Regions from separate parts of the Homo sapiens genome. Here region 1 is linked to region 2. Evidence: fine-mapped expression QTL. A gene starts in region 2. The other region holds a variant in brackets. All regions are shown on one strand. Distances are from middle to middle.

Region 1 (2,903 bases), 84 kb before region 2:
TTGCCTGTGGTGGCTGCCAGCAATCCTTTGCATTCCTTGGCTCATGGCTGCAGTGCTCCAATCCCTGACTCCATCCCTGGAAAGCCTTCTTCCCTTTGTCCCTCTGTCTGAATCTCCCTCTCATCCCTTTTCTAAAGACATCAGTCGTTGGATTTAGGGTCTACCCAAATGCAGTATGGCCTCATCTTAACTTGATTACATCTGCCAAGATGCTATTTCCAAATAAGGTCACACACACAGGTACCAGAGGTTAGGGCTTCAACATATCTTTTGGGAGGATACAATTCAACCCATGACTGCATCTTTGTGCAGAATGGAGACATTTGTGCCCGCTCTGGATGGATGCTGCCCCTATGCTCATGGCTTAGTGAGGAGACAGCACCCTTGTGTGAATTACACCAAAGAGCCCTTTCTCCTAGTGCAGCTCCACACCAGGACCCAAGGCTTTGCACTTGGAATCTAGGCTGATTTCAACCCCGATTTAGCCTCCCTCTGGCCCACTCAGCAGGACACAGCCTGTTCAATCATATGTACTGACCTTCGACTACTCTGCCCTCAGCTGGCTGCTTCCACTCTGCCCCTCCCCACATTCCTACCCATCCTATTCCTTCCATCCCCATATCCTGAGGGTATAACCCATTCTCATTCTCAGTCCAGTTTTTGGATGTCTTTTGTGGAATGATCTGATTCTGTAGCTCCTGTGACTAGCTGGTATGTTTGCCTGGACAACATCTATTCTCTTCTCTTCTCTTCTCTTGTGGAAACAGCACCCTAATTTTCCTTTGGGGCAACCATCCCTCTCCCACTTGCAGTTCCTCTGGTTTGGGTGGGACTGACCCCACATTCCAACTTGAGATTGGCATAAAATCTAGTGTTGGCCAACCAGAACACCCCATCCCCTGGCATAATGATTAATCCTAGACTATTCTAAACATGACCGGGACTTTTGCCAAAACTACTGAAGGAGAGCCATTCTCTCTGTCCAGATGGCTATATGAATAGGATAAGCCCGGAGTGGCCTGAGAATAAAGCTGACCCAGAGAAAACTGATGCTAAGAGAGAGAATCCTGATAATATAATTTAGTCACCTGCTTCTATCTAAGCCTAAAGCTAGATATAGCCCAGGACTTTATAAGTAACATGAGCTAACAAATTTCCCTCCCGCCATGATCCCCTCTTTTACTGTGTGACTACTAAAAGTGGGTCTCTGTCCTGTAACTGAAAGAATCCTATCTAGGGACTCTTTAAAATGCCAAAAAAGAAAGAGAGGAAAGAAAAGAAAGAAAAGGAAGAAAGGGAAGGAAAGGAAGGAAGGGAAGGGAAGGAAGGAAGGAAGGAAGGAATTCCAATCTCTGAATGCATCTCTGACACCTCC[G/A]TTATCTCTGCTCTGTGCTTCCAAAGCTCTGTGTCCTCCCTGGCCCACCAGGGTCTCCATGCCTGAGTCCTGGCAGATGAGTAGGAGTTAACTAGGCTAAGAAAGGGGAAAGGTTTCCTAGCACATCATGGTGGAGATAGGTGTAAAATTGGACTGAATATCCCGCCTACTTAGACTCATTAAACTTTTTGAGGAGAGGTGGGGGTAGGGAGCAGGTTCTGCCCCTTCCTGGGGCTGCCAGTTCTGTCTACATTTGGTTTCATTTTCCTGTGGGCTCTCTACTTTCCAGCTCAGCAGCTTTGTTCCCACGTGCCATCCAGCAGTGTATCTTAAATCTCTGCTATGAGCTAACACTGAGCTAAGCTGCTGGGAGGCACACATTGCCCCTTGTTATTCTCTGCAACCTCTACACCACCTAGCACAGAGCCACAGCCCAGCAGGTCTCCAGAAGTGCACACTAATAGGCATTCCCTGACCTCTTGCAATGTCAGTCCTTCCTTCACCATGAAGCCTTCCCTGACTGTTGTAGTCCATCCTGATCTCCCCCTTTCCTGAGTCCATCATGAGCTATTGCATCATATTGTGTCTTTTGTTGCACTGGTGCTGGACCTGTTTCCCAGTTCCTCTTAAAGATTTCTGAATGCAAGAATCTGTACCCAAAGTTCTTTTTTTTTTTTTTTTTGAGACAGAGTATCACTCTGTCACCCAGGCTGGAGTGCAGTGGAGCGATCTCGGCTCACTGCAACCTCTGCCTCCTGGGTTCAAGCAATTCTCCTGCCTCTGCCTCCCCAGTTGAGCTGGGATTTACAGGTGCCCACCACCACATCTGGCTAATTTTTGTATTTTTAGTAGAGATGGGATTTTGCCATGTTGGCCAGACTGGTCTTGAACTCCTGACTTCAAGTGATCCACTTGCCTTGGCCTCCCAAAGTGCTGGGATTACAGGCATGAGCCACTGCGCCCAGCCTCCTCTGCCCAAAGTTCTTAGCACAAACTCAGGAAAGAGTCACTCTACAAATGATACACAATTCAGAAGAACTTTAATGCATATACCATCATTGCCACTATAATAGAGATAGAAGATACATTAAGAAAATTCAGTTTGTATCAATAAAACAGATCAACACAGAACAAGGAAACACCATAGATATTTGTAAATGAGATCTTCTCTTTTGCTACTGTGTATATATATTCCTTTATATTTATACAAACTCACAACACATGACATTTCATATTTCATATGCCACTGAGAAGAGGTGTCAGTATACAGAACATAGGAAGAAGAAAAAAGCATGAGAACATCTGCTTAGTTAGAATCTGATGAGGAGAGACGTGAGAGCTATTGTTCCTCTCTCTGCTCAGGCCTATCGAGAGGCAACTGCAGTTTTTGCTAATTGTTCCTCCTGAGGAATTCTGCTCATACTGCTATGGTACATCTCCTAGGTTGGCATGAGACCAGCCTGGTCCCCAGTTGAATAAATTAGAAAGAGCAGTTGGGGGAATTGAATATGATATGCAAATTGCATAA
Region 2 (2,903 bases):
TGTGTGTGTGTGTGTGTGTGTGTGTGTGTGTTTTGAGGGCCCATCTTTCTCCCACCTCCTCCACATCTCTCTTAGCTTCCAAAGGCTGCTGCCCTGCCCTCCCCAAAGTTGCTTCCATGCTTGGACTACAGAACAGAGTTGGATGACTTTTTCTGTCCACGATTCTCTTATTTTCTGTGATCCCCGGTGCCCGTGTAACAAGGTCCAGTGCCTGGGTCCCCTCCTTGGACTCCTGAGTGGCCGAGACACCGCTAGTGCGTGGACACCACTCCAGCCCCCATTACCTTTCCACCCTTACACCACGACCCACACCTGGCCTCCTCCCCAGGCTGACCCAGCGCCCCACCACCCTATCTATACACTCCAAGTTCTCCCACGATTCCTCCACTTGCAGCCGCCAGACCCTACTCTATTCCAGAGCCTCCTCTCCACTCCTGACCAGAATGTAGGCCCCTGTGTCCATTTCCAAGGCCACTTCCCTGTGTCTCCACCGGCTCCCTGCCCCCTTCCTCTGCAGCAGGGTAGACCCAACCTGGCCTCTCACCCTTCCATTCTCCCAAGCTTCCCGCCCCCAAGCCCCACCCCTCGTCTTCCATCTACAGTTACCCCCACGCCGGTCCCCAGCCGGGCTCAACCTCCGACCCCAGCTATCCATACCCACATCCCCCATAAATGACCCTCTTTCGACCAGACACTGCCCTGCTGCCTTTCTCCTTCCCAGCTATCCATACCCACATCCCCACCCCCGACCCTCTCCCAACCAGACACTCCCCAGCTGCCCAGCGCCCCTTGCCCTCGGCACCTCAGTCCCCTCCAGCTCCAAACGACCCCCGCCCAGCCAGTCCCCTCCCCTCAGCTCCTCACCTCCATGCCTCCCCCCGCACCCCCGCTCTAGCTCCCCTCAGTCCGCTCCCTTCACCGCCCCCTTCGCTGCCCCTCGGCTGCCCGGTACCACCTTTCCGCACAGCCCCACTCCGCCCTCCTCGCAGCTCCCCCGCCCCCCACGCCCCCGTTTCCCCCAGCGATCCCTCACTGCCCTCCAGTTGCCCCCCATCTCTCCTCCCAGCCCCAGCGCCGTCTTTCTTGCTCCCCTCCCGCCCTTGGAGCTCCCCCGGCTGCCCCCAACGTCTGGGAGACCCCCTCGGCGCCCCCTCCCTAGGTGAGCCCCACCTCTGCCGCCGCGGAGCCCCCTCCCTCGCTCCTCCCCCGGCTTCCTTCCGCTGCCCCGCGCTCCTTCTCGGCGCCCGCTCTCGGTGCCCAGCGCCCCGCGCCGGGGATCGGTCCCTGATCCTCCGCGGGCGGGCTGCCGGGGCCGCGCCCCTTACCGCGGACTCCGAGTGCGGGACGACGGGTTCGCTCCCGGACGGTCGGCGGGACGGCAGGACCTGGCGTCGGGAGGGCGCGGAGGGGGCCGGGGCGGGGCGCTGCGGGATGGTCTGGTCCGGTCAGGTCCTCACAGTGGCGCCTGAGGGCTGAGGCTCCCGCTCCAGCACTGCTCCGCTCCGGCCGCATCCAGGCCCCGCCCAAGGGCGGAGTCTGTGTTCGCCCCGCCCCGGCCCTCAACTCCTAGCAGGTGTAATCCGAGGTGACTCAGGACCTCCAGGTCCCCCATGTCTGGGTGACTCTCGTGATTTATCTTAATTGTCATGCCTCGTTCCATTGACTGAACTTACTAGGGTAATTAGAGAGCTTTGATGATAATGTAGCTGATGATGGGTAGCAGTTTTGCCATTTCCAAACTGCTTTCTGGTCCGGTCCGTTCTATGGCTCCGTCTTCACAAAAGCCCAGAGAGGGAGGCTGACTACAAGCGGAAACCAAGCCAGAAACCTGGACGCTGTCCTCTACCCTATCTGTGTTTCCTTCACACCCCACATCCCACCGCCTTAACATATCCCTGCCCTTCCTCTGTGTCTCCATTGCCCTTGTTCTGACTCCAGCATCATCACTTCTTGCTTGGACTAATGCAACAGCTTCCTAATTCCTGCCTTCACTCTCCAATTCACCCTATAAAACCAGGACGTGGTGTCAGCATGGCCATTTCCACCCTTGTACAAAAATTCTTTCTCCTGTGGTCTCCAGTCATACCACCCTCCACCCCTCCTCATCACTGACACCCAATTGTTCCTTATGCATTAAAGATTGCAGCCCCTGGCCCATGGTCATCCTAACTAGCCCCTGTTCTGCCATACTCCTGGTGACTTCGGTAGCTGTGAGACTTCCTGGTCCCATTCATTCTGAGTCAGATACCAAAATCATTTTGACACAAGCCCGAGCAACCCTTTAAAAAATGTCACCATGTTACCATCAACCTTGTTTAAGAAAACTCTCGGCCAGGCACAGTGGCTGACGCCTGTAATCCCAGCACTTTGGAAGGCCAAAGTGGGCAGATCACTTGAGGTCAGGAGTTCGAGACCAACCTGGCCAACATGGTGAAACCCTGTCTCTACTAAAAATACAAAAATTAGCCGGGCATGGTGGTGCATGCCTGTAGTCCCAGCTACTTGGGAGGCTGAGGCAGAATTGCTTGCACCCAGGAGGCAGAGGTTGCAGTGAGCCGAGATCACTGCACTCCAGCAGTGCACTCCAGCCTGGGCAACAAAGCCAGACTCCATCAAAAACCAAACAAACAAACAAACAAAAACCTCTCAATGGTTTCCCATTACCAGGAGGCTGTCAACAGGAGTAGAAAAATGTTCTTGCCTGGCCTGGCCCTAGGAAGTCCCACTTCCACTAGAGGAGGCAGATAGAGGAGGCAATAAATACCCCACCCTCAAATCCTGATATGGACTTCCAGTCTTCCTGAGGTCACAGGAGCCAGCTGAAGGCTTGCTCTAGAATCATTGTCTTTCCCCACACTTCTCCCCCATCTCAGATCTTAGAGGTCTGAGTCAAATACCAAAAC

Direction of the effects. Alleles are on the strand shown, and positions count from the first base shown. SD is a standard deviation of normalised expression in the study named.
In carriers of allele A in region 1, the expression in iPS cells of the gene that starts at base 1,474 in region 2 tends to be lower than with G alone (large effect, 0.81 SD a copy in PhLiPS).

What was found. PIP is the estimated chance that this variant, and not a neighbour inherited with it, causes the effect.
Region 1: its variant is the best candidate, but not a certain one, in a credible set for the expression of RAB3B in iPS cells (PhLiPS, PIP 0.70).

What each region holds. Positions count from the first base shown.
Region 1 is chr1:51,905,558-51,908,460 of GRCh38, forward strand. RAB3B (RAB3B, member RAS oncogene family) reads right to left here. Exons shown (of 5, transcript NM_002867.4): 5 at 2,399-2,903. Among named protein-coding and RNA genes, the nearest start is that of NRDC, 28 kb to the left of the region's middle. The variant G/A (reference allele first, on the strand shown) is at 1,376.
Region 2 is chr1:51,989,227-51,992,129 of GRCh38, forward strand. It overlaps RAB3B (RAB3B, member RAS oncogene family), which reads right to left and starts at 1,474. Exons shown (of 5, transcript NM_002867.4): 1 at 1,326-1,474. RefSeq lists a silencer at 1,388-1,497.